Regions from separate parts of the Homo sapiens genome. Here region 1 is linked to region 2. Evidence: fine-mapped expression QTL. A gene starts in region 2. The other region holds a variant in brackets. All regions are shown on one strand. Distances are between the middles of the regions. Region 1 overlaps FCGBP (Fc gamma binding protein). Region 2 holds the start of PSMC4 (proteasome 26S subunit, ATPase 4).

Region 1 (5,377 bases), 39 kb after region 2:
ATATGGAAGGTGGTCATTCCATAGCCCCCACACTCTCTTCAAGATTCCTTAGACCTCTCTCTCCTCAGCCCCAGGGACGCTCTTCCTAGTTGGGGGTGGTCAGAAGCCCCCACTGCCATCTATTTCTAGGAGACAATTCATTCACCCTTCCATAATCCCCTTCTTCTCTTTATCCCCTTTTCACAAACCCCCAAGTCCCATTATTATTATTATTATTATTATTATTATTATTATTATTTGAGATGGAGTTTCACTCTTGTTGCCTAGACTGGAGTGCAATGGTGTGATCTCAGCTAATTGCAACCTCCACCTCCTGGGTTCAAGCGATTCTCCTGCCTCAGCCTCCCTAGTAGCTGGGATTACAGGCGCCCCATGCCACCATGTCCGGCTAATTTTGCATTTTTAGTAGAGATGGAATTTCACCACGTTGGTCAGTCTGCTCATGAACTCCCGACCTCAAGTGATCCACCCGCGTTGGCTTCCCAAAGTGCTGGGATTACAGGCAAGAGCCACCGCGCCTGGCCCCCACAAGTCCTATTAAGACAAAAACCAGCTGGGTACAGTTGGTCACGTCTGTAATCCCAGCACTTCGGGAGGCTGATGCAGGAGGATCACTTGAGCCCAGGAGTTCAAGACCAGCTTGGGCAACAAAGTGAGACCCTGCCTCTAGAAAAAAATTAAAAAATGAGCCAGGCACACAGTGCGTGCCTGTGGTCCCAGCTATACCAGAAGCTGAGACAGGAGGATCCCTTGAGCCCAGGAGGTTGAGGCTGCAGTGTGTTGTGTTTAAGCCACTGCACTCCAGTTTGTAAAAAGATGGAAATCATACACTGGCAGCAGAGTACATCCACCTTGAGCCCCAAAGTGCTTAAAACAATTGTGGGTTGGAGATTTCACATGAAAATTCAGATAGCCACATTCTCTTTAAAAACAGAAAGAACGGCCAGGCGTGGTGGCTTACGCCTGTAATCCCAGCACTTTGGGAGACCGAGGCAGGTGGATCACCTGAGGTCAGGAATTTGAGACCAGCCTGGCCAACAGGGTGAAACCCCATCTCTACTAAAAATACAGAAATTAGCTGGGCGTGGAAACCGGGAGGCAGAGGTTGCAGTGACCCAGGATCGCGCCACTGCACTCCAGCCTGGGTAACAGAGTGAGACTCCATTTCAAAAGAAAAAAAAGAAAAAATACAAAAGTTAACTGTGCCTGGTGGCGCACACCTGTAGTCCCAGTACTCGGGAGGCTGAGGTGGTAGAATCACTCGAACCTGAGAGGCAGAGGTTGTGGTGAGCCGAGATCGTGCCACTGCACTCCAGCCTGGGTGACAGAGCGAGACTCCATCTCAGAAGAAAAAAAAAAAGAAAAACAGGAAGGTCTTACAATTTAAAAAAGCTCACATTCTTTCATTATAACAGGTGAAAGCTAGTACCAACAATCCACTTTTTTTTTTTTTACTAGTTTATATATTTTTAAAATTTTTAATTTTTATGGGTTTGCATTTATGGGGTACCTGTGATATTTTGATACAGGCATACAGTGTGTAATGATAAAATCAGGGTAACTAGGGCATCCCTCACTTCAAGCATTTGTCATTTCTTTGTGTTAGGAACATTCCAATTCCACTCTCAGTTATTTTAAAATATACCATAAATTATCGTCAACAATAGTCATCCTGTTCTGCTACCAAATACTAGATTTTATCTATTTTATCTAACTGTTTAACTGTATTTTTGTACCCATTAACCATATCTACTTATCCCCCAGTCCCCGCTACACTTTCCAGCCTGTGGTAATCATCGTAACCATCATTTTACTCTCTATTTCTATGAGTTCATCAGTTAAAAATTTTAAATTCCCATCTATGAGTGAGAACATGTGAAATTTGTCTTTCTATACTGGCTTATTTCACTTAACATCATGTCCTCCAGTTCCATCCATGTTGTTGCAAATGACAGGATCTCATTCCTTTTTTTTTTTTTTTTTTGAGACCGAGTCTCACTCTGTTGCCCAGGCTGGAGTACAGTGGCGCGATCTTGGCTCACTGCAACCTCCGCCTCCCAGGTTCAAGTGATTCTCGTGCCTCAGCCTCCCGAGTAGCTGGGATTACAGGTACATGCCACCATTCCTGGCTAATTTTTGTAGTTTTGGTAGAGACAGGGTTTCACCATGTTGGCCAGGCTCGTCTTGAACTCCTGACCTCAAGTGATCCACCTGCCTTGGCCTCCCAAAGTGCTGGGATTATAGGTGTGAGCCACTGTGCCGGGTGATCTCATTCTTTTTTATGGTGGATAATTCTCCATTGTTTGTATGTACCAAATTTCCTTTATCCACTCATCTGTTGATGGACACTTAGGTTGATTCCGTATCTTGGCTATTAGGAATAGTGCTGCAATAAACATGGGAGAGCAGATGTCTCTTACATATACTGACTTCCTGACTTGGAAGGAAAGGAATTGCTGGATCATACAGTAGTTCTAGTTTTAGTTTTCTGAGAAACCTTCATATTATTATCGATAGTGATTGTACTGATTTACATTCCCACCAACAGGGTAACAGGGTTCCCTTTTCTCCACATGCTCAGCAGCATTCATTACTGCCTTTCATTAGGATAAAAGCCATTTTAACTCGAGTGAGATGATATCTCACTGTGGTTTTAATTTGTGTTTCTCTGATGATTAGTGATGTTGAGCATTTTTTGATATACCTGCTGGCCATGTGTATGTCTTCTTTGAGAAATGTCTATTCAGATCTTTTGCCCATTTTAAAATCAGATTAATCCGGGCGTGGTGGCTCACGTCTCTAATCCCAGCACTTTGGGAGGCCGAGGCAGGCGGATCACTTGAGGTCAGGAGTTCGAGACCAACCTGGCCAGCATGGGGAAACCCTGTCTCTACTAAAAGTACAAAAATTAGCCGAGCATGGTGGCGCATGCCTGTAATCCCAGCTACTTGGAAGGCTGAGGCAAGAGAATCACTTGAACCCAGGAGGCGGAGGTTGCAGTTAGCTGAGATCGTGCCACTGCAGTCCGGCCTGGGGTGACAGAGTAAGACCCCATCTCAAACACACACACATACACACACACACACACACACACACACACACA[A/CACAA]ATCAGATTATTTGATTTTTTTCCTATTGAGTTGTTTGAGCTCCTTTTATATTCTGGTTATTAATCCCTTGTCAGTACCATCTAGAAATGCTACTGATTTTTGTATGTTGATTTTGTATCCTGCAAATTTAGTGAATTTGTTTATCAGTTCTAATAGCTTTTTGATGGCGTCTTTAGGTTTTTTTTAAATATCAGATTATATCATCTGCAAACAAGGATAATTTGACTTCTTTTTTTTTTTTTTCCAGTTTGGATGCCTTTATTTCTTTCTCTTGTCTAATTGCTTTAGCTAAGATGGGTTGTATATATTTTCTCTTATTCTGTCAGTTGTGTCTTCACTTTGTGGATTGTTTCCTTTGCTGAGCAGAAGCTTTTTAGGTTGATGTGATCCCATTTGTCCATTTTTCTTTGGTTGCCTGTGCTTTTGATGTATTACTTAATAAATTTTTGCCCAGACTAATGAACTGGAGAGTTTCCCAAATGTCTTCTTGTAGTAGTTTCGTAGTCTGAGGTCTTAGATTTAAGTCTTTAATCCATTCTGATTTGATTTTTGTATGTGGTGAGAGATAGGGGTCTAGTTTCACTCTTTGCATATGGATATCCAGTTTTCCCAGTACCATTTATCTTCAATAAATGCAATGTATGTTCTTGGGATCTTTGTCAAAAATGAATTCACTGTAGGTGGGTGGATTTGTTTCTGGGTTCTATGTTCTGTTCCACTGGTCCATGTGTTTGTTTTTATGCCAGTACCACACTGTTTTGGTTATTATAGTTTTGTAGTATAATGTGAAGTCAGGTAATGTGATTCCTCCAGTTTTGTTCTTTATGCTCAGGATGGCGTTAGCTATTCTGGGTATTTTGTGTTTCCACACAAATTTTGGGATTAGTCTTCTATTTCTGTGAAGAATGTCACTGGTATTTTTATAGAGATTGCATTGAATCGGTAGATTGCTTTGGTTAGTATGGACATTTTAACAATATTGTGTCTTCCAATCCATGAACATGGAATATCTTTCCATTTTTTTTGGTGTGTGTCCTCCTCCATTTCTTTCATTACTGTTTTATAGTTTTCATTGTAGAGATCTTTCATTTCTTTCGTTTATTCCTAGGTGTTTTATTTTATTTGTGGCTATTGTAAATGGGATTACTTTCCTTTTTTTTTTTCAGATTGTTTGCTGTAAGCATATAGAAATGCTACTGATTTTTGTATGTTGATTTTGTATCCTGCAAGTTTAGTGAATTTGTTTATCAGTTCTAATAGCTTCTTGATGAAGTCTTTAGGTTTTCTGTTTTTTTTGTTTTGTTTTTTGTTTTTTGTTTTTTGAGATGGAGTTTTGCTCTCGTTGCCCAGGCTGGAGTGCAATGGTGCCATCTCAGCTCGGTGCCATCTCAGCTCACTACCATCTCTGCCTCCCAGGTTCAAGCGATTCTCCTGCCTCAACCTCCCGAGTAGCTGGGATTACAGGTGTCTGCCACCATGCCAGGCTAATTATTTTTTTGTATTTTTAATAGAGACAGGTTTTACCACGTTGGTCAGGATGGTCTCAATCTCTTGACCTCTTCATCTGTGCAGCTCAGCCTCCCAAAGTGGTGGGATTACAGGCTTGAGCCACTGCACCCAGCCAAAGTTGTTTTTTTTTTTGAGACAGAGTCTTGCTCTGTCATCCAGGCTGGAGTGTGGTGGTGTGATCTTGGCTCACTGCAACCTCCACCTCCTGGGTTCAAGAGATTCTCTTGCCCCAGCCTCCCGAGTAGCTGGGACTACAGGCATGTGCAACTATACCCAGCTAATGTTTGGTTTTTTTTTAGTAGAGATTGGGTTTCGCCATGTTGGCCAGGCTGGTCTTGAACTCCTGACCTCAGGTGATCCACCCACCTCGGCCTCCTAAAGTGCTGGGATTATAGGCGTGAGCTACCAAGCCCAGCTGTCTTCAGGTTTTTCTAAATATAAGATTATATCATCTGCAAACAAAGATAATTTGAATGCCCTTTTTCCAGTTTGGATGCCCTTTATTTTTTTCTATTGTCTAAGTGGTTTAGCTAGGACTAACAATAATATGTTGAAGAATAGTGGTGAAAGTGGACATCCTTGCTGTGTTCCAGATCTTAGAGCAAAGGCTTTCAGTTTTTCCCCATTCAGTATGATACCAGCTGTGGGTCTGTTGTACATGGATTTCATCATGTTGGGGTGTGTTCCTTCCGTGTCTACTTTCTTGAGAGTTTTTATCACGAAAGGATGTTAAATTTTATCAAATGCTTTTCTGGCATCAATTG
Region 2 (5,377 bases):
GCTAATTTTTATATTTTCAGTAGAGACGGGGTTTTGCCATGTTGCCCAGCCTGGTCTCAAACTTCTGGCCTCAAGTGATCTGCCCACCTGAGTCTCCCAAAGTACTGGGATTATACGTGTGAGGCACCATGCCTGGCCTCAGAGCCCAATCTCTTAACACTCCTACTCATCGTTTCAAACTGCAGGCCCCAAACCAGTAGTAGTTGTGAAATCAATTTGGAAGGTCATGACCAGAACTGTGTTTAAAGCAAAACAGACTAGAATAGGATAGAAAACATCAGCATATACCACACCTAGTAAGGCTAAATATTTCATGGTGAAACTTATGTTTTACACATCTATCTAAAAAGTAAGAGACAGATACAGATAATCACAATGTAAAATACATTTCTGGCCAGGTGCAGTGGGGCTCAGGCCTGTAATCCCAACACTTTCGGAGGGTGAGGCGGGTGGATCGCCTGAGGTCAGGAGTTCAAGACCAGACTGGCCAACATGGTGAAACCCTGTCTCTACTAATAATACAAAAATTAGCCAGACTTGGTGGTCCATGCCTGTAATCCCAGCTACTTGGGAGGCTGAGACAGGAGAATCGTGTGAACCTGGGAGGTGGAGGTTGCAGTGAGCCGAGATCATGCCATTGCACTCCAGCCTGGACAAGAGCAAAACTCTGTCTCAAAACAAAAAACAAACAAACAAAAAAAACATAGATATACATATATATATGTGTATATATATATATATGTATGTATTTCTACCTTTCGATCAGTCAAAATACTCTGAAGAACATTGCACTGCACTGCCCTGCCTTGTTTGCTGCTGCCTAGCACATGGTAGGAAATAGTTGTTAAGTGGACAGATGAATGAATGAGGTGTCCTTAGCACACCTGTGGTAGAGCCCACGATGGCTGTATTCTGATCCACAGCCTCCAGAAATTGTCCGATGACCAGCGGGATGCTTTGGATTCGCTTCACCTCCTCCTGGGCATGGAGAAATTCCTTTTTCAGGTTCTTTTGCTCATCTTTGATGTATTCCTCCTGCACCTCCAGGAACTCCAGCTCTTGCTGCAGCTTCTGCGAGCAGAGAGGGGACAGAAGGGGATGGCTCCAGACTTGCTGATCCAGAGAGTGGTGGAAAGTGGGGAAGAGTATGAGATGTCAGGTCCTGTGCAAGGTCTGGGTTGGGGGTCGAATGTACCTTGTAGCGGCTGTACAGGTCCTCCAGGTCCTCAGGCTCAGGGCCCAGGAAGGACAGGCCGGTCTGGGGCCGGGACACGGACAGTGCTGGGATCTCATCCTAGACGAAAGGGGATAACTCACATTGGAAGAAGACAGTCCTCTCATGAAAGCTTCCCAACTTCACTAATGTTTGTTCCCCTCCCCACTTCACCCTGATGTCACTTAGCCCCTAACAGACCCCTGATATCTTAAGACCCTCTAAATAGATCCTGGAAACCTTTTGGCCACCTAAACAAGCTCTTTATGTCAACTTGCCCCTCAAACAGATCTTATGTTATCATATACCACTCATAACATGTCCCCAGTGTCACACAACCCCCAACTAGGATCTAAACGTCACATCAACTCCTTATCAGACCCAAATGCCACCCAATCCCCTTCAAGAGGTTCCTAATGTCACATGGCTCTCCTAGATAGGCTGTTAAAGTGACTGCGCCTTCAACGAGTCCCAACATTCCCCAGTTTCCCCTCAAAGATCCCTTATGTCACAGTCTCCTAACTCACCTTAGACCTAAATATCACTCAGGCAAGCCACAGATAATACTTAACTACCCGCCCCATTACCCCCATCAGCAAAGCCCTGAACATCAGTCAGCCCCGCAGCCCAGACCCGGGGATCACTCGGCCGCACGGCGGGATCCCATATATCACTCACCGCCTGACCCAATCCCAACGCCGGGCCACCGACCTCACTAAGCACTACCGGCCAGGGTTCGAAATCAATCCGTCTCAAAGACCCACTAACGTCACTCACTCCCCCAGCCCCGCTTTCTGAGCCTTACCTCCTACCATCACTCGGCCACCCAGACAGGCCTTCGAATGGCACAAAGCTCTCCACCGAGGCCTCTAAAATAACCCCAACCTGGGCCGGGGTCCTGGAAGCCATTCCTCCCCCCACTCAGGTCTGGCTTCACCCTCTCCCCGCGAGCCCGGCCCGGACTAAAAAGCCCAAGTCCCCACTGTACCTGAGCCTTCTCCACCAAGATGCCTATCTCCTCCATAGTGACCAAGCCGGCCTCTGTGTGGCCTGGGATGATCTGTCACCGCTTCCGCTGACGACAACGGAAGTCCCTGGCTGAGGAGGCTTCTGGGAAGTGTAGTTTAAGTTACGGCTGAGAGGTGCTGGAAGGGCAGGATAGGACGAAGGGCTGGTCTGGGCTCCGCCCTCAACATAAGCTCATGCGCTGTCCGTACCCGCAGGCGCGAGGGCGGGACGGGAGCTGTGGGCGTGCGCAGTATCACGCGGTGGCGCCATCTCGCCCTGCCGTGGAGGGCTGGGGGTTCTCTCCGGGAGGTGGCGCAGCCCCGTTGCTCTTTCAACGGAGTAAGTTCGCAGAGCTCTGGCACGGACAGTCTGGCGGCCAACTGCTCTTCGCTTTCTAGTGTCTGGGCTGGAGGGTCCTTGAGCTGGGTTCCACAGAAGGGATTGATCGTACGGGCGGGTAAGGTCTCCACGTGGCGCTGATCCAAAGATTGTGCGCCGCGCGGGCGTGGGAAGATCCGAGCTGCCCCTGAAGGTGACATTTCATACTGGGCTTTACCCCGGGATTGAGGAGCCCCGAGCCCGCAGTGAGCAACCAATCGAGTAGAACCCACGCGTCTGGGCTGGGGAAAAGGAGGCAGCGAGTGCCCAGAAGTTGGGTAGCACAGGAGATCCATAGACCTTAGTTCTGTATCCCAGGTTTCCGCCTTACAGATCTATGCCAGGTCCTGCGCTTAAGCTTTACAGGCATCATCGTCGCAAGTATTATGTTTCCTCATTTATAGAGAAGGAGACAAGCTCAGAGCCACGAAGCCACCAGCCACAGTCAACAATGTGCCGAAGGGACAAAGCATAGATTGGGACCCAGGTCTGTCTGTCCCCAAAGCCTGTACTCTTGGCCCCAGGGAAACACTGCTACCCTTCACACCAGCTACAATTTTTGTTAAGTAAACCTTTTATTGAAGTTAAATAAAGAGAAGAGCACAAATCATTACAGCTCGACAAAATTACACAAAGTGAACATGCCCATACAACCTGAATCCAGATCGCAAAACCAAACAGTAGAAGCCTCATGTGCTCCCCTTTCCCCCATCCCTTCTTCTCCCCCCTCCACTCCCCGCCCCGAGACGGAGTCTCACTCTGTTGCCCAGGCTAATATTTGTATTTTTAGTAGAGACAGGGTTTCACCATGTTGGCCAGGCCGGTCACAAACTCCTGACCTCAAGTGATCTGCCTGCCTTGGCCTCCCAAAGTGCTGGGATTATAGGCGTGAGCCACCACATCCGGCCTCCCGATCCCTTCTAAAGGTTATCATTCATCTGTTTTTTTCTTTTTTTTTTAAGAGCTAGAGTCTCTGTCGCCCAGGCTGGAGTGCAGTGGCACGATCATAGCTCACTAGAGTCTCCAACTGCTGGCCTCAAGCTATCCTCTCTCCTCAGCCTCTGAAAGCACTGGGATTACAGGCATGACCCACCCCATGTAGCCTTTAAAAATATATCTTTTGAAAGAGATTCTTGCTCTGTTGCCCAGGCTGGAGTGCAGTGGTGAGATCACTACTCACTCCAGGTTCAACCTCCCAGACTCAAGCAATCCTATACCTCAGCTTCCCAAGCACCTGGAACTACAGGCGTGTGCCACCACGCCTTGCTAATTTTAAAATGTTTTTTGTAGAGATAGGGTTTCGCTGTGTTGCCCAGGCTGGTCACGAACTCCTGGACTCAGATGATCCTCCCACTTCAGCCTTCCAAAGTGCTGGGATTACAGACATGAGCCACTGTGCCTGGCTGGACTCGCCCTGACTTGTAACAGCTGGGTTACTTTTGTTTGTTTTGAATTCTCCTTCTCTCTAGACCAGTACTCTGTGTACTGTGTTTGGTTTCTTTTAGTTAATGTTGTTTTTGTGAGATTCATGCATACCGTGTGTAGAAATAGTTCTTTCATTTTCATTCTGGATGGTTTCCATTTTATGACTATGCCCTATACCTCAGACTGGATATTTTCCAGTTTAGGGGTGTTATAGTGCTATTGTTACTGGGGGTCCTTGTTCTTAGAGCTCCCAAGATGGTGGTGGGCCGCTTCCAAGATGGCAGTAAGTCTCTTGTTCTCTGACCTGGGGTTCTTGGCCTCACGGATTCCAAGGAATGGAATCTTGGGCCATGCGGTGAGTGTTATAGCTCTATTCAGCTCGATTAGGAGGAACCCCGGGCACTTAGCCCGCGCAAGAACAATGGTGAGCCTCTAGCCCAATTGGGAGCGGCAATGGGTGCCGCCTCGCTGGATCAGAAGTGCAGTGGACACCCGGATCCGGAGGGGTGGAAGTCAGCGGCAGGTCTGCCACAGCTGCCATGGCAGCAGACAGCAGCGGTGGACAGTGAGCGAAAGCTCAGCTCAAGCCATAACAAACACAGACCAGAAGAGTGTACAGTTGCAAGGTTTAATAGAGTGAAAACAGAGCTCCCATAAAATGGGAGGAGACCCAAAGGGGATTGCCTTGCGGGCTCCAGTGCTGGGTTATATCCCGCCGATCATTGTCCCTCTCTCTGTGCTCTCAGGCGTTAGATGATTGGCTATTTCTTTACCTTCTGTTTTTGCCTAATTCGCATTTTAGTGAGCTCTCTTTACTACCTGATTGGTTGGGTGTGACCTAAGTGGCAAGCCCCTTGTTTAAAGGTGGATGCGGTCACCTTCCCAGTTGGCTTAGGGATTCTTAGTCGGCCTAGGAAATCCAGCTAGTCCTGTCTCTCACTATGAATATTCTAGTACATTTCTTTGGACAAACTTACGTATTCATTTCTTCTGAAAATAGATCCCCCTCCCAAAGAAAAACAAAAACAAAAACAAAATAGACCCAAGTGTGGAATTGCTGGTCGTAGGGCAGGTATGTGTTTAGCTTTAGTAGACACTGTCAGACTGTATTAATTTACACTCCCACCATTTGTATGTATACTCTTGATATTTTGTGTGTTTGGACATTGTTTTCTATTTGGTGGATGGATCATGGGTTGTCACACGAGACACCACTTGCGCATTCACTTTTGGCCAGGAAAATTCCAAACCATGATCTCATAACAGCCCTCAGAGGTAGGTTTGCTTTTCCTCATTTTACAAATGAAACTGAGGTGCAGACAGGGGAAAGCCACTTCCATTAAGTTACAAAGA

The links.
Region 1: its variant is fine-mapped to the expression of PSMC4 in whole blood (INTERVAL, PIP 0.96).

What each region holds. Positions count from the first base shown.
Region 1 is chr19:39,928,683-39,934,059 of GRCh38, reverse strand. All of the region lies in intron 1 of FCGBP (Fc gamma binding protein), which reads left to right. Among named protein-coding and RNA genes, the nearest start is that of FCGBP, 3.3 kb to the left of the region's middle. The variant A/CACAA (reference allele first, on the strand shown) is at 3,104.
Region 2 is chr19:39,968,063-39,973,439 of GRCh38, reverse strand. It overlaps PSMC4 (proteasome 26S subunit, ATPase 4), which reads right to left and starts at 2,275. Exons shown (of 11, transcript NM_006503.4): 1 at 2,202-2,275; 2 at 1,196-1,294; 3 at 885-1,071. The coding sequence starts at 2,237. It overlaps LOC124904720 (a long non-coding RNA gene), which reads left to right and starts at 2,469. Exons shown (of 3, transcript XR_007067260.1): 1 at 2,469-2,560; 2 at 3,004-3,086. RefSeq lists enhancers at 1,312-1,991, 2,016-2,405, 2,906-2,955.